Linked DNA regions of Homo sapiens: regions 1 and 3 are each linked to region 2. The links come from fine-mapping of genetic effects on gene expression. A gene starts in region 2. Each other region holds a variant in brackets. All regions are shown on one strand. Distances are between the middles of the regions. Region 1 has its middle 16 kb from the start of S1PR3. Region 2 holds the start of NXNL2 (nucleoredoxin like 2). Region 3 has its middle 40 kb from the start of NXNL2.

What was found. PIP is the estimated chance that this variant, and not a neighbour inherited with it, causes the effect.
Region 1: its variant is the best candidate, but not a certain one, in a credible set for the expression of NXNL2 in lung (GTEx, PIP 0.65).
Region 3: its variant is the best candidate, but not a certain one, in a credible set for the expression of NXNL2 in tibial nerve (GTEx, PIP 0.69).

What each region holds. Positions count from the first base shown.
Region 1 is chr9:88,971,259-88,979,440 of GRCh38, reverse strand. It overlaps the pseudogene PCNPP2. Among named protein-coding and RNA genes, the nearest start is that of S1PR3, 16 kb to the left of the region's middle. The variant A/G (reference allele first, on the strand shown) is at 3,740.
Region 2 is chr9:88,531,366-88,539,547 of GRCh38, reverse strand. It overlaps NXNL2 (nucleoredoxin like 2), which reads right to left and starts at 4,370. Exons shown (of 2, transcript NM_001161625.2): 1 at 3,812-4,370. The coding sequence starts at 4,113. LOC105376134 (a long non-coding RNA gene) reads left to right here and starts at 5,008. Exons shown (of 2, transcript XR_007061653.1): 1 at 5,008-5,534. RefSeq lists enhancers at 2,916-3,749, 3,750-4,584.
Region 3 is chr9:88,491,112-88,499,293 of GRCh38, reverse strand. No RefSeq gene overlaps it. Among named protein-coding and RNA genes, the nearest start is that of NXNL2, 40 kb to the left of the region's middle. RefSeq lists an enhancer at 3,269-3,810. The variant G/T (reference allele first, on the strand shown) is at 3,374.

The DNA of each region.
Region 1 (8,182 bases), 440 kb before region 2:
GAATCATGTTGCTGTTCCTGGAGCCTGCGGTCTCAATGAGGAATGGCTTTTTTCTAAACTATTCTCTTTCCAGACAATGCAAATACAGCACATAGAACTCCAAAACCTTGAGCCACAAATCCCAGGATCCCTTGGGTAAGCTGGAGGAAGGCTAGGGGCTGCAGGCTCTCTGTATCCAGAGAGACATGCTCAGGGCTGGTGGCCGGCTTGGCCATTTCCTGCTTCATGGAACTGAGCTTGGCACCAGCACTTCTTGCCATTTCTCAAGTGGCTCATTGCCCTTAACTCTGACTTTTAGATGACCACATGGCTCCCAGCTGTAGACTTTATTTTTCCTGAATTTATCCACTTATCTCCTCTTGGTTAGCCTGAGCATCTAAACTTAAAATCATAATGCTACAAAACTTTTTCTTCCTTTTTTCCCTTTTATTTATCCTTAAATGCCTATGTGCCCATTATAGTCATTGAAGCCCTGGTACATCCCGCAGTCCCCACAACTTTTATTGAATGGAATTAACTGTATTCCTTATGAATTACAGATGATTTTTTCTAGCACGGTGGCATCTATTTTCAGGTGATTATAGACGATTCTGAATTACCTTTGGGGCTTCAGACAACAGGTTAGGCCCTGCAGGTAGGCGTTTTTCTGGGTTTATCATTTACCTCTGCTTTTTATCTGGTTTTGCAAAATCCTAAAGCCACAACTAGGATCTTGCATCTGGGGGCTTTCCTAATTAGAGATTTCAGTCCTAAAGCAAAGATCAGAAGCTGTCTTAGACTTCTGGAGTTGAAGGACTCTGGTCATTTTGTTTCTTCCCTTTTTGTTTGGGACAGCAAGAGACAAGAAAGTCGTGGGGAAGGGAGGCGGGGATGGTGTTGATGGGCTTGTGTGCTGGGTTTATGAAAGACTGAGGGCATTTATAAAGAAGAGCTTCAATGTTTCTTAAGTACAATTCTTATTAGGCGACTGTATAAAATTCCATTTTAATCATTAAAAATGGCGGTGCAGGTGGTCATTTCACATGGCTCAATGTAACACATTCTCCTGGGAAACAGCCTTTCTTCATCTGTCCTTTCCCTACCAAAAATACACAGGCTTCTTTCCTCTTTTTGTCCCTCGACACCCTCTTCCAACAAGCCTCCTCTCATCCCAGCACTTCCATCCCAACCAACCACAATATTTACCGGTTCCCAGGAGACAGCCGTATTTGATGTGGTTTGCAAACATCAGCATTGTAGACCAAATGGGAATGGGCTTGACAGGAAGCTGATGGGAGAGAATTCTCCTGGTGTGAACCCTTCAGGCTTCCCAGTGGCAGTAAAAGGAGGAGGAGGAGGAGACGGGGAGATGATCATTAATGAGCCTTCTGCGTAGCTTCATCCTGAGATTCCAGCTCAGGCACCCAGGGATTTGCTTTCCTGTGCTCCTGAGTCAGGTTTCTTATACCCAGGGCCCATGTTGTTCCCTTTCTTGGTTCTGGAGGAAAATCTAGCAAGCTCACTGTCAGCACCCTCCTCGGCAAGTCCGAGTTGCAGCCTCTTCCACTTTGCTAAGCCAGTTTCCACCCCTCCATCCACTTCTCTCCCAAACGCTTGCTGTCTTTCTCCCTAATGTCGCTGGCCCAGCTTTCTTCATCCCTTTGGCCTTCAAATCTGGTAAATTTATTGCCGCTAGAGTGGAGTTTCAGGAGTGTGAGAAGGTAAGTGTGGTGAATGCAATATATTCAGGTGGAAAACGCATTGGGTTTTAAGCACAGGGAAATCATCTCGTTTTAAACAATAATAACAACAGCACAACATTTCCTTAGACAACTTCATCCTCCTCCTGCCCACAGCTACCATCTTTCCTCATCTTCCTAGAAAAGTACTATTTCCTCTCTTTCTCCTCAGCTCTCTCCCATTTAGCTTGAATCCATTACTGCAAGCAGAGCACCTCCTGCTAACGCTGCCCAGGTCCTCGGTGCCTACACCACTGCCCTTCTCCTCCATCGTGACCACCCAGCCAGCTCTGCCAGTACGGATCCTGCTTTGGGGCAGTTGTTTTTCCCTAGATCATCTGTTGATTCTCCTGTCTGCTACTCCTTTGCTCTACTTTGCAGATGCCTCTGGTTTTACTCAGGGTTGCACCTGGGGCCTTCTCATTTCTAATTTTCTCTTTAATTTCCATAATAGTCATGCATCGTTCACAACTTCACTCTTCCCAATCATGCCTCGCACTGTAGCCAAAGGAGTCTTCTCAAAATGCCCCTCTATAGCTCCTCAGCTCCTGGGGTGAAGTCCACACTCTTGCACGGCCTAAGTGCCCTGTGTATCCTGGCTCCAGCCACCTCTGCCTTGTCACACCCATACTCTCTCGGCTGTCTCCTCCCCACCTTCAGAAAGCTCATTCTTGTCATGCTGCCTCCTGCCACAGGGCTTTTGCTGTCCCCCCTCCTTAAGCGTTTGCCTCCTTGCTTACCACATTAAATCCCACACATGTTCCAGACAAGTGGTCCTTCCTGCAGGAAGCCTTCCGTGATATGTCTGATTTGCTCCATATTACCTCCTGGCCATTGAAGAGGTAAATCTCCCCTAATTCCCCTTCCTTCATCCCAAATTGGATTCTGCATCTGCCTTCAGACCTTGCTCCCCACTCTCCAGAAGGCTTGGATCTCTGTTACACTTGAGCAACACATTTGTGAGATTTTTCCTTCACTCAAGCCAGTTTCAAGGCATGATGCAGAGGGTTGTTTCTGTCTTCCCACGCGGTAGAAACATAGTTTTTACTCACTTCCGCCTGCTTTGACATGATGGAAGTTCCTGACCTTTCTTGAGGAGGGGAGGATTTATCTTTTTTCAAATTACTCACATAAACTGATCTTTTTATTTTTAAAATTCACATAATTAAAATGCACATTAACATTCAGGATGTGTAGACTATTTTCAGTCTCACCCTGGCATGCCACAACCACCCCATGCCAGGACCTGGCACTCAGGAGCCCTGGAAGTTCTCCTGGGGAGTCCTGCATCCAGACCTGCCTGCTTACCTGGGGGTATCAGCTTGATGACCCTCCTGGTCGGGGCTGGAGCTGTAGAGGTGGCCAGATGTGCCCAGCAGAGCCACAATGCAGAGAAAGAACAAGGTTTCATCTCACTTACAGTCTTCCAGGGTCAAGAGATTTTTATTCACCAAATTAAAATGTTCGACAGTTGGTTGCTTAATACAAGCGGGCAGGAGGGACCAGGGCCCTGGGAGAATAGACAGCCACTTTGGCTAGATTCCAAAAGCTGGAGACAGTAGAAGTGTAGGCTCAGCAACTCTGTGGTCCTGAAGCTCAAGAGGACCCTGAGAAAAGGGTGGAGAAAGAAACTGTGTGTGTGTGTGTGTATCTGTGTGTACAGCAGGGATCTCAGAACCTTACAAGGCAGTTTTCTGTAGGCAGGACAGGCTGATTTGAAGTGGTTGCCCGGTTTACCTCCCTCGGGCTCCTTGCTGATCAGTTGCTTCTGATGCCTTGGGGATCTGACAATATATTTGGAATGTTTTATGCCAATTACCGCTTTGGTTACTAGCACTTTCTTTCTTTCTTTTTTTGAGACAGAGTCTCACTCTGTTGCTCAGGCTGGAGTGCAGTGGCACGATCTCGGCTCACTGCAACCTCTACCTCCCGGGTTCAGGTGATTCTCCTGCCTTAGCCTCCCGAGTAGCTGGGATTACAGGTGCCCACCACCACACCCAACTAATTTTTGTATTTTTAGT[A/G]AAGACAGGGTTTCCCCATGTTGGTCAGGCTGGTCTTGAACTCCTGACCTCAGGTGATCCACTCGCCTGCCTCAGCCTCCAAAAGCACTAGGATTACAGGCATGAGCCACTGTGCCCGGCAGTTACTGGTATTTTCAATTCATTTTCTACTATGTTGGAAGAGAATTTAAGATGAAAACAGTCTTATTTTTCTCTCACTATCAATCTTATTTGATTCAGATGTCAAGAAAGCAAGGTGTTTTCTGTGTTAACCTAGAATTTTTAAATACTGCTGCTGGTATTATATTATGCTCTCCTAAATTTGCAGGACAATAGCCATGCTGTGAGCATCCACAAAGTGGAAGATAAGATCCACTCATTATTCAAGCAACATATATTTATATTCTTGTCACTTTTAATGAAATTTTCAACATAAACTTGCTACATTTATCAGTGTTCTTTCTGCCATGCACTCTGTCACATAGAGAGTAAATTCCAGGGCCCTTTAAAAAGAAACTAGAACATATGGTTTGGACAACTAAGTACTTTCTGCTCTCCCTCCCTCTCTCTGTCCCTCCCAACTATCATTCATTGATTTCTTTATCTAATCCATTAACTAATGTTGCCATGCCAGGCCCAGAACTGGCACTGGGAGCACAGTGATGAATGGGACTAAATATCTGTCCTCAAAAAGCCTATAATCTAGGAGAGAGGGAAGAACAGAAGATAGAAGTGGTGACAAGTATGACAGCTGCTCTCATGGAGGGGCAGCAAGACTGGAAGCATGCAGGGTGGGGCAAAGGCCTCCTGACAGAGGAGGGGCTTGCCCTCCAGCTTGCAGGACACACACACACACACACACACACGCGCGCGCACATGCATGCACATGTGTGGCACAGACCCCAGCCCCCAGCTCAGGGGCGCTGGGAAATGGAGCTAGCCTGGAGTGTTCCAGCTCTCTGAGCATTGCCATCTGTGTGTGTGTGTGTGTGAGAGAGTGCATACACGTGTGTGTCTGTCTCTGTATTTACACGTGCATGTTTGTGCATGTGTGATTGTGTGGGAATGTAAGAATGTGTGTAGAATGTGTGTAAAATGTATGTTTTGTGTAGTGCGTAGTGTGTGTGTGGTATGTGTGTGTGGTGTGTAATGTGTGTGCCTGTGCGTGTGGTGCATGTATGAATATAAGTATGTGTTGTGTAGTATGTGTGTTGTGTGTAGTGTAGTGTGTGTGTTTCTATGTTGTGTGTGGTGTGTGGTTTTTGTTGTGTAGTGTGTGCTTGTGTGGTGTGTGTGTGTGTTTGTGTGTGGTGTGCATTGTGCAGTTTGTGTGGTGTGTGTGTGGTGTTGTGTAGGTTGTTGGGTGGTTGTGAGGTGTGGTGTGTGCATGCGTTTGTGTGTGGCATATGTGAGTGGGTTGTGTGTTGTGTAGTCTGTGTATGTGTGGTGTGAGGTGTGTGTTTTGTGTAGTCTGCATGTGTTTGTATGGTGTGTGTGTTGTGTAATCTGCATGTGTTGGTTTGTTGTGTATGGTGTGTTGTGTGGATGTGTTTGCATGTGGTGTATGTATGTGTGTGGGTGTTGTGTAGCCTGCATGTATTTGTGTGTGGCATGTGTTGTGTCATCTGTTTGTGTGTAGTGTGTGTGCGTTGTGTAGTTTGTGTGGTGTGTGTGTGTTGTGTAGGTTGTTGGGTGGTTGTGGGGTGTGGTGTGTGCATGTGTTTATGTGTGGTGCATGTATGCGTTGTGTGTTGTGTAGTCTGCATATGTGTGATGTGTGTTTTGTGTGTGTTGTGTAGTCTGCATGTGTTTGTTGTGTGCGTGCTGTGTAGTCTGTGTGTTTGTGTGTGTGGTGTGCATTGTGTAGTTAGTATAGTGTGTGTTGTGTGGTGTGTGCCTGTGTTTGTGTGTGGTATATGTGAATGTGGGTTCTGTGTTGTGTAGTCTGTGTGTGGGGGGGTGTGGTGCGCATTGCGTAGTTTGTGTGTGTGTGTTGTGTGCATGTGTTTGTGTGTAGTGTATGTCTTTGTTGTGTGTTGTGTAGTCTGTGTGTGGGGGGTGTGGTGTACATCGTGTAGTTTGTGTGTTGTGTGCATGTGTTTGTGTGTGGTGTATGTGAGTGTGTGTTGTGTAGTCTGCATGTGTTCGTGTGGTGTGTGTGACTGTGTGTATGGCACGTGAAAGTGTGAGTGTGTGTCTGCATTGCAGGGGCCGGCAGTGGGAAGGGAGAGATGCTGAGGATCCCCGCCTGGCTCCTGGAGGTATCCCGGCCTTTTTGCAGGCTTCACAGCTGGTGGGTGTCCTGGCCTGGGGGCATTAGACAAGCAAGGCTTCAATGATGAGGCTGGAGCGTCAGACCCTGTGGAATCAGGGAAGCTGGGGACCTTAGCTTCCTGAGGTGGCTCGATAAGACTTTGCTCAACCTGAGCAGTGGCACCTAGCAGAAGCAGGCGGGAGGATCCCAAGCGGACATTTTCTTTAAAGCTGGTGGTTAAGGTTCCTAGACAGGCACAGGGAACTTGTTGGATAAGTCCCAATCACCCCCACTTCTGCATATATTGGATCAGTGTCCCTGCATTGATGCTGTTGCAGCGTCCTCATTTTCCAAGCGCCCATGGCCTAAGAAAAGGCCAAACAGGACCTAATAGGTGTCTGAGGAGGCTGAGAAAAGAGGCTGGAGGCTGACTGCTGGTCTTGGAGACTCCCCCCACCGGCAGGGGGCTGAGGAGGGGCTGCGGGGAGCAGTGAGACCTCTGGAAGCTGCACAGTGGTTCACAAGCGTGGCTGCACATTTAAATTCAGAGGAACTTAAAGCAGCACTTTCACCACACTCCAGCCCAACTGAACACGAATTTCAGGCTTTGTGGTTTTGAACCCCAGATAATTAGGTTTGTGATCGAGGTTGAAGACCAGCATCTGCCTAGTTCCTAGTGTGGTCCTGGGATCACCTGTGTCTAGACTGTCCAAGTTACAGAGCTAGATCCTTAGACCTAACACAGACTTGGGGTCTGAGGCTATGGGTGGGCCTGGGAACCTGTATGACAGTGCAGTTAATAGGATATTTTTAGTTACACCCCAGTCAAACCAAACCGATTGGGCTCCACATAGGGCAAGGGAAAAGTAAAGAAAGGATGCTTGGCTGGCGGAAAAGGCAGGTGGCCCCACTAAGCATCAAACATGTGGCAGGGATAAGCCTGGGCTCTAGGGGGTGTATAGCCGTGAAAAGAGCAGGCTCTGCTGTCAAAAACATGTGGGAGGCAGACAGCCTATAATTAACATGTACAATAAAGTGTGCAAATGCTGCATGTGCAGTGCAGCGTGAAAATGATACATGTATGATGCAGAGTATATATGCTGCATGTGTGATACAGGATGTAAGTGAAACACGTATGCTGCAGGGTGTATCATATCCTGGGTGTAGGCGATGCATGTATAATGCAGAGTGTGAATGCTACATGTATGATGCAGGCTGTAAATGCTGCGTGTGCAATGCTGGGTGCAAATGCTTCATGCCGTTGGGCCCTGGCACTGAGGTGTGTGCTGGTATCTCCCCAGTGTAGTGATGTCTCAGAACCTGAAGGATGAAACATTGGTCAGAGTTCTTGGTTGCAGACAACAAAATCCACTTTAAAAAAAGAAAAAAACTGGATGGGTCTTAGTAAATTATATTAGTTGGCTTCCACAAGTTCTGGAACAGAGACCCAGCCTGGACACTACCTAGCCAGGAATCAAGCAGCCCTGAAACCACCAGCGACATCCAGAGAGACACTCTGGGGAAAAGCTGTTGCTGCTACCTCTGGCCCTTAGCACCCTCCACACAGAAGCCTGGTCCCCACCACAGCTTCACCCAAAGCAAACTAATGCCCCAGAAGCTGACCTCAAGGGCTCAGAGGCGGAGAAGCTGTGTGAGGGCCGCGGGGAGTCGGGAATGGCAGGCACAGGTTGGTTCTGGGCTTCCTGTTGCCCTTCCCTGCTGAGTTTGGTCAGTTACTTCACTCTGGTGTGACCAGGCAGCCTCTCCCTGGGGTTCCAGCGTGCCCACAGTGAGGAGGTGCTTCCTCCGCAGCTTCCATAGGGAAGGAAGGCAGAGGCCTGGGGAGGCCTGGCCTGGGCTGACCGCTGAGGCTGCTAGAAACGCCACCCTCTGGGCCCCTGGAGCTCTGCGCCAGGGACGGAGGCAGACTGTGGTGGGTGGACAACAATGCGCTCACTCTTGCGGAATGTTTTAGAAACCGTAGCTTCTTTGCTTGCTTTCTATAAACATGTATATTGTCCATCAATGGCAAGCGTACTTGGAGGTCTTTTTGTGTGGACTGGCATGGGCAGTCAGGCAGAAACATGCTTTGTCAAGAACACAGAAGGGGCGGCCACAGTGGGGAAAATGGCGGAGGGGAGGGCGAGAGCGGAGAAGCCTGAAAAGTCACAGCGAGCTGGAGCAGCCAGAGGACCTGAAGAGGAAGCAGA
Region 2 (8,182 bases):
GTGGGACAGGGCAGGGCTCGCACACGTCACTTCCAGAAAGGAAAGTAGACGGTCCGGCTGGGGCCAGACCAGGTGGGACTCTGTTATCTCAGGAACCTGGAACCTCTTCCCCAAGGCCATGAGGACTCCTTGGAGGGCTGCTGGTGGGTCGTGAAGGGGTTGGGATGCCAGCAGCAGCAGCAGCAGTATCTCACCTACAGATTCCTGAGCACCCCCAGGTCCGACAGCATCTGCACTCCTGACAGATTCCCAACTGACATGGGTCCATGCACCAGCCTTTGACCAGCACTGTCAGGAACAATATGGGGTCCCAGGAGCAGCAACACCAACATCACCTGGAAACTCATCAGAAATGCAATCTCCCCACCTCTGACGCTGGGGCAGTGCCCAAGATCTGGTGGTTTATGCTTGCTCAAGTTGGCCAATCCCACAGCAGTCTTCCAGGGCTTTCTGCATCCCCTGCACCAACTGGGAGGAGGTAGGAGACAGCAAGCGGAGAGGAGGCTGGGCATGGTGCCCCTGACAGCACGGGGAGTACAGGCCTGTGGTTTGCTGCTCAGCATCTGTGACCCTCCTTGGGAAACCATGTCTCCTTCATTTTCTGGCATGAACTAGCTGTGTGTCATGGGCAGGCTAGTTAACCTCCTGCACCTCGGATTCCTCATCTACACCACGGGAATAACAGAATCCACCTCCTGGAGTTGTTGTGAGGATTAAATAAACAGCTTAATGAAGAATGAGGCTTGGCACATAATAAGTACTTGATAAATGCTAGCTGTTCTTACTGTGTGGGAAAGACCCACCTCCAATTCCACCTGGGCCAACTGCTCAGTCAGCATATCTATCTGGTGGCCCCTGGCTACACTTAATAGTACAGAAATGGGGAACTAGCCAAATCAGAATCAATGAGGCGTGGTGCAGCACCTGGCTGTGTGCTGGGAAAGAGGAAAGTACAGGAATGCGCAGTCTGAGACACAGCAGCCATTCTGCCACCGTGAGGAGACACAGGATTTGCCAGGCAGCAACTGCCTGCAGCCTGAGCAAGGGGCAGACGTGGCAGAAGGCGAGCCACAAAGCTGCATCCTCCGTGGCCTCCAGCTTGCCCTTGACACCATCTTCTGGCTGATGGGTGTCTCATTAAAGCCAGCCCATAACCTTTACTGTTCAAGCTCTTTGAGTTGTTCTCATTGCTGCTGTTTTAATCACTTGCAACATTAAATCAAGCTCTAACACAGTCAGGGGGATGCAGAGCAGGCTGGGCTTTGAGGAATCAGGAGGGTGGAGGTGGTCATTTCACTGATATTCCAAGAGACACTCAGTACCAGCCCTCAAATCCCCATGCTGGCAGCCTCTGCCTGGGGACAAATGTAACCTTGGAGCTGCACATGAGAGGCAAAGAACCTCACTTTTTCCCTAATGTCATCTCAATCCCCTCTGGGCCCTGAGCTGTGTCCACAGAGAAAAGAACTTGCTTTTGGAGGAGAGAATGTTGTCATGGTAATAACTTAGGACTTTAAGCATTTGGGGAAAATCCAAGAGCCCAGTTCCTCCTTGTCCTCAGCACTGTTGCAACCAGCGTTGGTCCCTGCCTTCAACTAACACAGCCACATCCTTGTTGCTGGCATAAACCACACTTCTGGGTTGCCATGGCAACTCCTGACTCTAGTCTGTCATCTCAGCCAGGAGCAGGCTGTGGCCAAGCAAATCTCTCTGCAGAACTGTCTTTTGCTCACTTGCTTCAACTACTCACCAAACACACTCCCTGGGGATGCCAGGCACTGAACCATGTCTGGCTCTGTCCTGTGGGCAATGGAAACTCAGGAAACCCCCGGAGAGTTGGAGCAAGGCATGGCTAAACCGGATTGGTCTTTGAACCAAGAGCCAATCAGATGGGAACACCAAGGTCCTGTAGACGTAGGATAAGCAGAATTTAGGGCGTAGCTCCAACAATTCCCACAGAATATCCCACTACCTAGCTTACACATGACAACAACAGAGTTAAGGAAGTTCAGTGTGGAAAGGGGTAGGGACAAACAGCTAAGTTTACAAAAAGAAAAATCCCTCCCAGGCCAGCCAGGCTGAGAAGATAGGAGCACACAGCTGACCCACGTCACGCAGCTCACTGCCTCCAGCTGGAGCTCACAGGCTTGACCAGAGCATCAGAAACAGACGAGCAGTCTCCATGGCCCCAAGCGATGACCTCCCCAGTCCAATCTGTGTGCCGCTGGGGACCAAGACTCACCACCCCCTCAGTGAGGAAGTAGGGCACGGCAGAAAGAGGGTCCTCAGAGCCAGGAGAACTGAACTCTATGCCTCAATGGCACATCTGTAAAATGGGGCAATAGACTAGAGAGCTGGGACATAACCAGCGGACACATGAGCTCATATGTGATCAGCTCAACCCTGACAACAACCACGTGATGTATCATATGCTCAGCAATAAAATACCTTGCCTGCCATCACCTGGCAAGTAAATCCCAGAGCTGGGCCAGAGCTTTGTGCCTAATTACTATAATGATACTGCCATCGTCTCTCGCTTTCAAACCTGCGTTCTTTCAAAAGCTTACAAATAACTTGAGTACTAAACAAGTCCAATCCTGTTTTTAAAAGCACCACTTGAACTGATTCTGTAAGAAATCCTTTTGCAAAGTGAACCACCCATCTTGGAGATTCATTATCAATAGAACTTTCAGAGTCCCGGTGTGAGTGAGGCTCCCAGAAGCAGGTTACCCCCCTGGAAGGCTGGGCGGTGCCCTGCCTGGGCCTCCTCTTTCACTGGGAATCACCAAAAATCATGTTTGGGGGAATAATTAGATTTCTTCCCATTAATTACTCATCTACAAAACTTTCCAAAGTTAGCTTCCAGTTTTCATTTTCCAGAAGGAATGTCATCTCATGATAATCAGTTTAGGGGGTAATGCCACAACTTAATGATAATCTCCAGAAATGTGAGGCTGTAAAGCAAAACCCAGAAATTCACATTGGTACCTAGAAGGGGGTGGCCAGGACAACATACTTGACGAGGCCTGCTTTAAACCTAAGTCTGGACTCTTACACCATAGGAGACCACAGGAGACCCACCCCAAAAGCAGAACAATCAATCCCTGTAATCCCCTCTCTGCCAATCCCTACCCCCTCCTTTGCAACAGTTAGAGTAATAAAGTTTATAGTAATGAGTTTTATGCTTCTCTAGTGATGAAATTCCATCAGTGTCGGTAAAAATGAAACCGCAAAGGTGGCCAGCACCTGGGTTCCTGCCAGCCTTGAAGCCCCCGTCCCTCCCTCCCAGCAAACCAACCACGGCCTGCACTGTGGGTGCCTGTCACAGAGCTGATGTCCTCGCGGGTCATCCCTCATCCCCGCATCCAGACACCGGGTCATGTCCCTGTGCTTCCTGCCCACTAACTGGGAGGATGACGCAGCGGCGCCGGGAGTCCAGGGCTGATTGGGCCGGCGGTTCCCGGAGCCGAGCCCGCGAACTCACAGCATCACCACCACTGGGAGCTCCTTCGCAATGCAGATTCCCGGAGCTCCAGACCCCAGGCAGAAACGCGCCCGCGTCCATGCTCCACGAGCCCCCTTGGGGTGCCGATGCCCTGGGTTTTCGAATCTGGTCTGCACCCTCCCTGGTCTCCAAGAGAGGTTGAAACTGAGACTGAGTGTGATTTACCGGAGTCCGGACGTGAACCGAGAGACGGGGAGGTGTTGGGGGGGGGCGTCATAAAGAGCTCCCCAGTGCAGAGGGGGAGGCCTGGGGGAACATGGGGGAGACGTGCCGGGCGGCCCCCGCCCCCCCAGGACCCCCACTCACTGCCGGTAGGGGTCGTGGAAGGGCAGCGCCAGCCAGGCGCCATGCAGCTCGCGCATGAAGTCCAGCATCTCCTGGGAGCTGCCGTCGGCTGACACGAAGACCACTTCGAAGGGCGCGGGCCGCCGCGCCTCGGCCACCAGCGCCGTATAGAAGTCGCAGAGCAGCGGCGTGAAGTCGCGGCTCGGCGCGCACCGGGCCGCCGCGAAGTACAGTGCCACCACCTTGTTCTGCAGCGCCGCCTCGGCCTCCACCGTCGCGCCCTTACAGGTCACCAGGTGCCGCTCGCCCAGAATGTCAACCATGGCGCAGACACGCAGCCACCTGAGACCCGAGGACACCTGCAGGAGGATGATCACCTGCGGGGAGGCGGCGGCGAGCGCCGCGGTGCCCCGCCTCTGTCCGCACCACCGGGCGCTGGACCTCTCAAGACCTGCCCCAGATGCGCCCACACCTTGGCCAGGCCTCGCCTGTGGCTGGAGCAATTGTGTTCGCGCCGACAATGAGACACTCAGACACCAGAGACCCCAGATACCTGGGCGACAGCGCGGCACCCGCCTCTGGGAGCGGGGCCAGCCAGGCAACCTCAAGCCCTCAGGTCTCTGCACCCTCCCCCAACTGCGCCCCGCCCACACTCCTGCGCCCTCCCACCACTGCGCCCCGCCCACATTCCCCGCAAGCTCCCCAACTGCGCCCCGCCCACATTCCGCACTCTCCACCCACTGCGCCCCGCCCACATCCCGCACTCTCCACCCACTGCGCCCCGCCCACATCCCCGCCCCCGCCCCCACTGCGCCTCGCCCGCATCCCCACACTGTCCCCCACTGCGCTGGGCCCACATCCCTACACTCTCCACCCACTGCGCCCCGCCCACATCTCCGCACCCTCCCCCACCGCACCCCGCCCACATCCCCGCACTCTCCTCCAACTGCGCCTCGCCCACATTCCACAGTTTCCCCTCACTGCGCCCCGCCCACATCCCCGCACTCTTCTCCAACTGCGCCTCGCCCACATTCCACAGTTTCCCCTCACTGCGCCCCGCGCACACTCCCGCTCCCTCCCCCACTGCGCCCCGCCCACACTCCCGCGCCCTCCCCCTCACTGCGGCCCGCCGACATCCCGCGCCCCCGCCCCCATCCCGACTGCGCCCCGCCCACCTCCCGCGCCCTCTCCCACTGGTTGTCCAGCCCACATCCTGCACTCCCTCCACTGCGCCCCGCTCACACTCCCGCACCCTCCCCACACTGCGCCCTGCCCACACTCCTGCACTCTCTCCCCACTACGCCCCCTACCACATCCCGCGCCCCCGCCCCCATCCCCACTGCGCCCCGCCCACACTCCCGCGCCCTCGCGCCCCTGGGCTCTCCCGTCGTGGGCACTCTCCCCAGCGCTTCTACACTTTCTCCCGACGCAGCGCCCTGCCCTCCGTCCCGCCCCACCTATTGCCTCCTGCGCTTCCCCCACACCGTGCTCTTCCTCCTCCTTCACTTCCTCCCACTCCTCGCGCTCCCCTTCAGCGCCCCACGCAGCCCCTCCCCCAAAACCCCGCGTCGCTCTCCTTCCCTCCTGGCCTCTCTTCCAGTCTCGCGCTCCCTGCCGGGCCCCGCCGCAGGTGTCCCGCAGCCGTCTCCCCAGGGCATTTGAATCTTGCCTTGGAGCTCTTGCCGCGCGGCCCAGCACCCTGGAAGAGGCATCAGGGAGGATGGGACGACGAGGAAGGGGAAGGGTAATTGGGCTTGGAGCGGGCTTGGGCGGGGTGGTAGGGAACCTGAGCTCCGTTGGTTCAGGGTGTTTGCCCCTGACATCCTGTGGCCTGGCTGGGAGGGTTCGTGAAGTTCAGGAAGAAATTGGGAGCAGTCCTTACAGAATGTTTTATTTGAAGAACCAAGAGTATTAATTTTTTGGCGAGCACTGTTGTAGGCCCTGGGAATTCAGCAGTGAGAAAAATAATTTCAACTCCCTGCCAGACCCGGGCTAGAAGGAGGCAAGCGAGCGAGGCACTCGCATAGGGGCAAAATTTAAGGGCGCGACAAAAAAACTCAGTAGTCAAGGTAAATAATGTTTTAATACAATATCTTAAAAAGTCAAAATGAATGCAAAAAAAGTTTATAATGAACAAAATATCAAAAACTTAAAGACAGTGAATGAAACCAAAATATGCCATCCTAAAATATGCCGCTTTGGTATATTGATTATTTTGAGCGAGAGGCACTTGAAAAATAGCAAATGCAGAGAGACGTTCTCCCCTTACCTGTCTAAAGACGGAACCTCCAAAAGAAACTGATTGTCGTAAATTCCCTCCCGGGAGGATGGACTCTTATCACAGCAGAAGTCCACACCACACCTAGACAAACTTTGTCACAAACTCATAAAGACTTATGCATCTTTCCTAAAAATCAGTTACTCTCCCCTAAGTGGCCTACACCAGCTTCCAGTTCCCCAATTTTAGAAGCTCTCAAAGCTCACTGGTTTGGGGGGTTTTCACCTAGTTTCCTGCAATGCCCCCATGCAGGTGATATTAAAGATTAATAAATGTGTATTCCCGTTCCCCCCGTTCATCTGCCCGTTGGCAGTTAATTTCATAGAGCCAGCTATGGAACTGGGGAGGACAGAGAGAAGGTCTTTGCTCTCCTAAGACAAGATGGATCCCCCACTGACTTTGGACTCCCGTCACGTTCACCGACCCCTGAGTCCTGCTCCTGTGCCTGCCTGGAGCTTATGTTCTAACGGGCACAAACAATAAATAAGGAAGATATTTTGCAGGTGCTATGCCAAAAGAAGAGCCATGAGGAGGGGCGCAGGTTTTTGTTTTGTTTTATTTTGGTTTGGTTTGGTTGGTTGGTTGAGATGGAGTCTCGCTCTTGTTGCCCAGGCTGGAGTGCAATGGCGTGATCTCGGCTCACTGCAACCTCCGCCTCCCGGGTTCAAGCAATTCTCCCGCCTCAGCCTCCTGAGTAGCTGGGATTACTGGCGCGTGCCACCACGCCCAGCTAATTTTTGTATTTTTAGTAGAGACGGGGTTTCATCATGTTAGCCAGGCTGGTCTCAAACTCCTGACTTCAGGTGATCTACCCACCTCTGCCTCCCAAAGTGCTGGAATTACAGGCTTGAGCCACCGAGGGGCGCAGTTTTAATCTAGCGGTGAGAGGAGTCAGGGAAGGTGAAATTTGCGCTTCCTGAGGACCCGCCTGCCGGCCCGGGCTCCCCCAGTCTCGCCGTTAAATGAACGGAAATTGGCGGACGCCGTTGCCTGCAGGCACAGCCCGTCGGCTCGGTTGCGTAAATGTACTTAGCAGCCAAAGCTCAGTGGAAACCCTGCGGGAGGATTGATTGGCGCTCTTAGGTGAAGCAGGCTGTCAAGAGCCCCGATTCACTGTCCTCTGGGGAAAATGGATAGACAAATCGGAGGAAAAAATTGAGAGGAACTGTGAGCAGTATAAATCTTGCATGAGGAGGCCCCTGACTTACGTTAAAACTCAGAGGTAAGAGGAATGAAATGCAGCTAAGCTCTCAAAATCATCCAGACTATTTTGTTTTGTCATCTTATCCTTGAACACACAATGAGCCAAAGTAGACAGCATTCCTAATTAGTTGACGGTGCCACCCTCCCGAGAAAATTAACGGTCATTCGCATTAATACTGCCTGCCCTGGGGAACTCACCCAACCTCCATCCAGGAATGGATCGCACTTCCTGCTGCCGATGTCGGGGGCAGGGCGGCTTCCTAGGCATGCAGACCCTCAGAGGCACAGGGCCCTGCACTCACTTGGGGCTCAGTGTTCTGCGGTTGCAGTCTTTGTTGTTTTGTTTTTTGTTTAGAAACTGAATCTCACTCTCTTACCCAGGCTGGAGTGCAGTAGTGGGATCATAGCTCACTGCAGCTTCCAACTCCTGGGCTCCAGGGATCCTCCCGCCTCAGCCTCCTGAGTAGCTAGGACTATAGCCACATGCCACTATGCAAGGCTAATTGTTTTTATTATTATTATTATTATTTTTTAGAGATGGGGTCTCCCTCTGTTGCCCAGCCTGGTGATTTTTTTTTTTTTTTTGGATGGAGTCTCGCTCTGTGGCCCAGGCTGGAGTGCAATGGCGTGATCTCAGCTCACTGCAACCTCCACCTCCCAGGTTCAAGTGATTCTTCTGCCTCAGCCTCCCGTGTAGCTGGGACTACAGGTGCACGCCACCACGCCTGGCTAATTTTTTTATTTTTAGTAGAGACGGGGTTTCACCATATTGACCAAGCTGGTCCCTAACTCCTGACCTCGTGATCCGCCCGCCTCAGCCTCCCAAAGTGCTGGGATTACAGGCGTGAGCCACCGCACCCAGCCAAAATTCTTAATTTATCTTTGAATTTGTGTGGTATATGAGAGGTCTT
Region 3 (8,182 bases), 40 kb after region 2:
CACAGGCTAAGTTCCCCCCCAACACACTCAGCCTGCCCCTTCTGTAACACGGGCGTGGTAACAATGCCTGTCAGGGTAAGGTGACTGTGAAGAATTTTATGCTCTATATAGAAAACATACACATGGATCGAAGTCCCTGTGTGTGCCTGTGTTCTGTGGTTCATTAAATTTGAGCTCTTACTACAATGAGAAGGGCATGACTTGGGCTCCTGCCCAGTGCCCTTGGGCAGGCACAGTTCTCCTTGAGTCCTTATTTTGTTGGGTGTTAGTAAGATGTGCTCAGCTAATCTTACTAATCTTACTTTGGCTCCCGGGTGTTTGGAACGTTACTTTTACAGCTAAGCTTACTTTGGCTTCCAGGTGTTTGGAACGTTCCTGGCCTACACAAAATTTCTCTCCATCTTGGCTTCTTCCAAGAGGTGCTTCTAAAATTCCAAGCTGAGGCAGCTTGATCCTGGGGAGGTCCAGCCAGCTTGGTACTCACTTGGAGAGTGTTTATAAGCGGCACTGTCTTGATAGTAGCTATCCGCAGACAACACGAGGAAGGAAATTATAACCGAGCATAAGGTCCTATCCCCATATGTATGCTCCATGTCAAGACATTTCTGTGCCCGTCTCCCCTAAGTGAGAGTTTCCAAGCGTCTCTCTAGGTCCTCACACCCACAAATCCAAACAATGCTTTATTCTTAAGAGACTTTCATTCAAAGATACCCTGGTAGATTAGATTCTACTTCTTAACAGCAACTATCAAGTAATCATAATTCTAAGAATTTCTTTTTTTTTTTTTTTTTAGACGGAGTTTCACTCTTGTTGCCCAGGCTAGAGTGCAGTGGTGCGATCTCAGCTCACCGCCACCTGTGTCCCCCAGGTTCAAGCGATTCTCCTGCCTCAGCCTCCCAAGTAGCTGGGATTACAAGCACACGCCACCATGCCCAGCTAATTTTGTATTTTTGGTAGAGAAGGGGTTTCTCCATGTTGGTCAGGCTGGTCTTGAACTCCTGACTTCAGGTGATCCGCCTGCCTTGGCTTCCCAAAGTGCTGGGATTACAGGCGTGAGCCACCATGCCTAGCAATTCTAAGAACTTCTTTGGATCAGTTATCAAATGGAGATTTAAAAAGGCAATCTCAAACTTATAACAAAGTCTCTGGGGGCGGGGGTGCACTTTCGGAGGCAGCCTCCCAATCCAGCATGGCTGCTGTGTATCCATTAACTGTTATTCATTACTGCTATAACCACAATTTCTCCAAAATAGAGAGGAAAACACCCTGCCTAGGCCAGACACTTGGCTTTATTCTTTGGCATGTAATTTAGATAAGAATATCACTGATACTCAGTGGGGCTAGCACACACACACAGACAGACATAAAATCAACCAAAGCAGGTCTGGAATGGCTGCTGCCTGAGTCTTCTGTGACACGGGGTATAACGTCCAGGTTAAGGTTTTCCCTGTCAGAGGCAGACAGTGGCATCATTCTAATTCCCTTTTCCCTTGGCCTCAAGCCCATCTCACAGTTCTTCTGCTGTACAAAGAAAGTAACCAGTTCCCAAGCGCAGCCACTCCACCTTCACTGTAGTACAGGCATTCTTAAAACTTGAATTTGCACGTGACACTACAGATTTTCAAATATATACAGAGCATTCAGGTGAAAGCACAGCTCTCACAACAGAATGAGTGTGGTTGGCATGACCTTGAGTTGCTCTCCTCAAAAACTGAGACAGGGCAAACATGGACACATAAGAATGGAGAGTGAGGCCCATTGGAGCCCCAAAGGCACATCTTCCCTTTAGATCTGGACCCCTGCTATCATTCTTGGGTGGATCTTGGAGAAAGATGCATGTCCCAAGCCTGAGAGGAGACAGGGCCCTGGCAGTCACTGCCTGTGGGGACAAGGCTGGAGCTGGCACTGGACTGACCGCTAGCTCACACAAAGATGATGCAGTCCATGGAAACAGTGGGAGGGCCTAGGGTGGCTTGCAAAGGACACCAAAAGGGAAATATAGAGGGGATCCCCAGTCACACCAGTAAAGCGAGAATATCCCTTGAATGACAGCAGTGGAACCTGACATGGAGAAACCTTGTGACCAAAAACACACACAGAAGGCATTAGAACAGCAAAAATAAGGTGCTCCCTCCAGCAAGGGATTCCAGTAGAAGAGACTCTTGAAATCCATATGAATTGTTATCCCAAACAGCCTCCGTAACATCTCGCCTCCAGACTGTCCCTGCTAGCATCTGCTCCTGGATGGCATTCTGTTTCGCAAATGACTTTCCCTTTCCCCACCCCAAAGGCCTCTGACATGTTTGATCTGTTTCTCCCTCAAAGTCCAGGGACTTTGGCAGCAAAGGATTAAACATACCTTTTGCTTCCTTCTCTCATCCATGTCCATTTTGGACACGGGAAGGAGGCAGCACAAGGGAACGTGAAGAGCCAGGCCTGACTCTCGGGCGAGCCCCATGCATGGTCTGGTGTCAGTGGACGCGCTACGGAGTGCACCCGGCCCTGTGCAGGACCTTGATGGGATATTTTCCCATATAAATTGACCCTGGTGCTGGGCTGACTTGTAAGATCGCCTCCATAGCTAATTTTTCTCAAAAAAACTTTCAAAACACCCCACAGAACCACAGATGTCAGATGACCACCACTGCTTCTGGCCCTCCACACTGTCATCTGTGTGCTCTCACATTTGCTCCAGCCAGCACATTTCAAATCCACACAAACATGGTGCAGGGCATATATGCATGGAGCATGCACAAACGAGTTTCCTCCCATCTCCAAAGTGGGCTCTGGAAGGTTCTTTGGCAGAGCCGGTTTCTCACAGCAGTAGCCTGAATTCTTTTTTTTTTTAGACGGAGTCTTGCTTGTTGCCCAGGCTGGAGTGCAGTGGCGTGATCTCAGTTCACTGCAACCTCCACCTCCCAAGTTCAAGTGATTCTCCTGCCTCAGCCTCCCAAGTAGCTGGGATTACAGGTACCCACCACCACACCTAGCTAATTTTTGTATTTTCACCATGTCGCCCAGGCTAGTCTTGAACTTCTTTTTCTTTTTTTTTTGAGAGAGTGTTTCACTCTTGTTGCCCAGGCTGGAGTGCAATGGCATGATCTCAGCTCACTGCAACCTCCGCCTCCCAGGTTCAAGCAATTCTCCTGCCTCAGCTTCCCAAGTAGCTGGGATTACAGGCATGCACAACCATGCCGGGCTAATTTTGTATTTTTTAGTAGAGATGAGGTTTCACCATGTTGGTCAGTCTGGTCTCGAACTCCTGACCTCAAATGATCCTCCTGCCTCAGCCTCCCCATTACAAAGTTGGGATTACAGGCGTGAGCCATCACGTCCGGCCCGAATTTTGATGGAGGGAAATCCTGGTGAGACC[G/T]CTCAATAGTAACAAAAAGGGGGCTCTTGGCCACAGCCCGATGACCCAAGTCCACCTCCTCACAGTTCCCACCCTGAGGGCAGTGCCCTCCCTAGCACAACCAACTTAATTCCCAGCTAAACTCACCTAAAGCAGATTTCAGATAAAGAACTACAAGGAGTGAAAATAAACTGCATGAGGGTCTATACTCAGCTTAACTGTTTTGCTTGTATTCTTGGGGTTTGGTTTCGGCCTTTTGCACTCTGGTCTGTGGGCCATGTCTTTGGGATCTGCCTTTCTCACTGGCTAACCTTCCTTGAGTCTCCAGGCAGGACCGGATTTCCAGCATCAGGAGGGCCTGCCCAGGGCCAAGGTACTTCGTTGAGCGCTTGGTCACTTGTGGGCCTTGCAGCACGGTCTCGCTCACTCAGCCCTGTCCCCTGCAGTGTCCACAGGCCGAGTGACAAGCTGCTTCCGGGAGCGCATCTCCGTGGCTGTGCCTGGATGCCCAGCTCAGCCAGCACTTGTAGCTTCTTGTGTTCCTGTTCTTGATCTCAGCCACTCCTCCCGCGCTTTTCAACAAGAGCTTTGCAACTCATGACAGCCTCCTCCTCAGGATCTTTTGGTTTTCACCATTTTCTTTCCTAAAGGGGAAACCTTTAGCTTTTCAGGACTTCAGCCCTGTCACTGGTCACCAGATTTTACCCGGAGCACCATGGCGATCAGGGCCCCCCTCAGGCATTCACCTCATTCAGACACAAGTGGATATCCTATCACACAGGGCACTGGGTCTAGTCCCAGGGCTTTGAATGGAAGCAACACGCCACCTGGGAGCTTGTTAGCAATACAAGTGCTAAGGCCCGGCCCGGTGGCTCATACCTGTAACCCCAGCACTTTGGGAGACTGAGATGGGAGGATCACCTGAGGTTGGAAGTTTGAGACCAGCCTGGCCAACATGGTGAAATGCCATCTCTACTAAAAATACAAAACGTAGCCAGGCATGGTGGCGTGTGCCTGTAATCCCAGCTACTTGGGAGGCTGAGGTGGGAGAATCACTTTAACCCGGGAGGCAGAGGCTGCAGGGAGCTGAGACTGACCCACTGCACTCTAGCCTGGGCGACAGAGCAAGACCCTGTCTCAAACAAAAGCAAAAAACAAATTCTAAGGCACCAGCCCACAACCACAATCATAAACTTCTTCCCACACTTTCCTTTTAGAATTCATGTCTCATCTCAGGAGCCTTGAACAGCTTTATTGAGGTGGAATTTACATACAGGTCATAAAATCACCTATTCTACTTATTTTAGTAATTTTAACCAATCTTAAACATTCCCCTCATCCCAAAAGGGCTCCTTGTGCCCATTCGCAGCTACTGTCCACAGGCAGCCCAAATCCCAGCCCCCTGCTAATCCACTTCCTGTCCCTACAGTTTTCCCTCTTCAGGACATTTCATATAAATGGAACCATACAATACATGGTATTTTCCCCTTGGCTTCTTTCATTTTATCAGTTTTTGAGGTTCATCCATGTTGTAGCATGTACTTCGTCACTTTTCATATCTGAGCAAGATTCCTTTGTGCGTATATAACCTACTGTGTTTATCAATTCACCAGCTTATGGAAATTTGGGTTATTTCCAGTTTGGCACCAAGAATAGAGATACAAAGATCTATATGAACTACATGATGCAGCTACAAGTATTAGTTTACAAGTTTCCTATAGACATATATTTTAAAATTCACATGGGTCTATTCCTACGAATATGGTAAATTTGTATTTACCATAGGAAATTACCAAACTGCTATCCAAAGGGGCTGCAACTAGTTTCTCAACACCCTGACCAACACTTCTTACTATCTTTTATTATAGTCACCCTAGTGTGAGAGAAGTGGTATCTCATACTTTTAATTAGTATTTCTCTAATGGCCAAAGATGTTGAGCATCTTTTCAATGTTTATTGGCCATTTTATATCTTCTTTTAGAGAAATATCTATTCAAATCCTTTGTCTTTTACATGAATTACTTCCTGAAGATTTCTTCATACATTCTAGATATAAATCTTTTATCAATATGATTTGCAAATACTTTTTCCCATCTGTAATTTTTTTCATTTCTTTAATGGTGGCTTATGAGACACAAGTTTTTAACTTAGATGAAGTCCAATTCATTAGTTTTTTTTTTTTTGTTTTTTTTTTTGAGACAGAGTCTCGCTCTGTCGCCCAGGCTGGAGTGCAGTGGCACAATGTTGGCTCACTCCAACCTCTGCCTCGTGGTTTCAGGTGATTCTCCTGCCTCAGCCTCCTGAGTAGCTCGGATTACGGGTGCCCACCATGCCCAGCTAATTTTTTTGTATTTTTAGAGTAGAGATGGGCTTTTTCCATGTTCGCCAGTCTGGTCTCCAACTCCTGACCTCGTGATCCACCTGCCTGGGCCTCCCAAAGTGCTGGGATTACGGGTGTGAGCCACCGCACCGTACCAATTCATCAATTTTACCTTTGAAAGATTGTGCTTTTGGTGTCACACGAGAAATTTTTGCCCAACCCAGAGTCATGAAAATTCTTGCCCATGTTTTCTTCTAAGTTTTAGAGTTTTAACTCTTACATTTGGGTGTATGGTCCATTTTGAGTTAATTTTTGTGGAAAATATAAGGATCTAAATCCATCATTTTGCATGTGAATATCCAATGCTTCAAGCCTCATTTGTCGAAAGGGCAAATCTTCTCCACATTGAAATGCCTTGGCACCTGTGAGCAAAACTGATTAAGAATGAATCTAAGGGCTAATTTCAGGACCCTCAAATCTTCAATTGATATATACATATATATGTCTATCCTTATACCACATTGTCTTGATTACTACACCTTTATAGTAAATTTTATCATTTGGAAATGCTCCAAATTTGTTATTTTTCAAGATTTTTTTTTTGACTATTCTGAGTCCTTTGCATTCCCATAAAAATTTTAGGATCAGCTTGTTAATTACTGAAAAAAAGCCTGCTGGGATTTTGATAGGGACTGCCATCTTGAGTCTTCTAACCTATGAACATGGAATGTCTCTCCATTTATGTAGTCACTAATTCCTCTCAGCCATATTTTGCAGTTTTCAGTGTACAAATCTTGCACTTTTGTCAAATTTATTCTGAAGTATTTTGATTTTTTTTTTGAAATGGAGTCTTGCTCTGTTGCCCAGGCTAGAGTGCAGTGGCGTGATCTCTGCTCACTGCAACCTCTACCTCCCAGGTTCAAGAGATTCTCCTGCCTCAGCTCCCCAAGTAGCTGGGACTACAGGCATACACCACCAGACCCAGCTCATTTTTGTAGTTTTAGTAGAGACAGGGTTTCACCCTGTTGGCCAGGCTGGTCTCGAACTCCTGACCTCGTGATCCTCCCACCTCGGCCTCCCAAAGTGCTGGGATTACAGGCTAGAGCCAACGCACCCGGCTCTATTTTGACCTTTTTGATGCTACTGTGGACAGTATTGTTTAGTTTTGTTTTCACAATTTATTGCTATATTGCAATATAGACATATACAACTAATTTTCGTATATACATCTTGTATCTTACAACCTTGCTGAACTCATCAGCTCCGTTGTGTGCACACGAGTGTGGTTATATGTACCCTTTAGGATTTTCTACATACAGAATTATGTCATCTGCAAAGCAAGACAACTTTATTTCTTCCTTGCCAATCTGGATGCTTTTCCTTGCTTTATTGCACTGGTTAGAAACTGCAGTACAATGTCAATAATGAGGGGTGTGTATAGACACCCTTGACTTACTACTGATCTTAGGGGTATATTCTCTCGTCGTAAGTATAATGTTATCGGTAACTTCTTTTTATGGATGTCTTTTTTTTTTTTTTTTTTTGAGATGGAGTCTTGTTCTGTCGCCCAGGCTGGAGTGCAGTGGCGCGATCTTGGCTTGCCGCAACCTCCGCCTCCTGGGTTTAAGCGATTCTCCTGCCTCAGCCTCCCAAGTAGCTGGGACTACAGGCAACTGCCACCACGCCTGGCTAATTTTTGTATTTTTAGTAGAGACGGGGTTTCACCATATTGGCCAGGCTGGTCTCAAACTCCTGACCTCAAGGGATCCGCCCGCCTCGGCCTCACAAAGTGCTGGGATTACAGGCATGAGCCATCGCACTTGGCCTATGGATGCCTTTTATCAGACTGAAAAAATTATCTTCTATTCCAGTTTTTTTCCATTTTTATCATGAATATGTGTTAGATTTTGTCAAATGCTCTTTCCCCATCATTTGAGATGACTCCTGCCTTCTGTCATCTATTAATAGGTAAAATACATTGTTTTTCTGGTATTAAACATGTCTCACCTGGCCATGTAGCTAAATCTTTCTATATGTTATTTGACTTGTTCATGGTTTTTTGTAACTATCAATATTTTCATGAGGGATTTTCTATCAGGGTAATACTGGTTTCACAGAATGAGTTGGTAAGTATTCCTTACTCTTCTTCTTCCTGAGTCTGTGAAAAATGGTATGTTTTCTTCTTTAAATGTTTGGCAGCACTCTTCTTGTTTTGTATGCTTTCAGGAATAAACCAGAGGTCATCTAAAAGTGACTGAGCTTCATTGCTGATTAAACTACCAACATCATTTGTACTGATGCCTGAAGGTTTTTCCCCATCAAGAACAGTCCCTTCTTAATAGCCAAAGGCAGATAAGGGTCACCTGGCTGGGGCTATAGGTAAAACTAAGCCTGGCTCATGAATGGGCAAGTCACAAGTACAGCTGGTCTTCCGCATCTGTGGATTCAACCAATCATGGATCAGAAATATTTGGGAAAAAAACAACAAAAATAATATTCATTAACAAGTA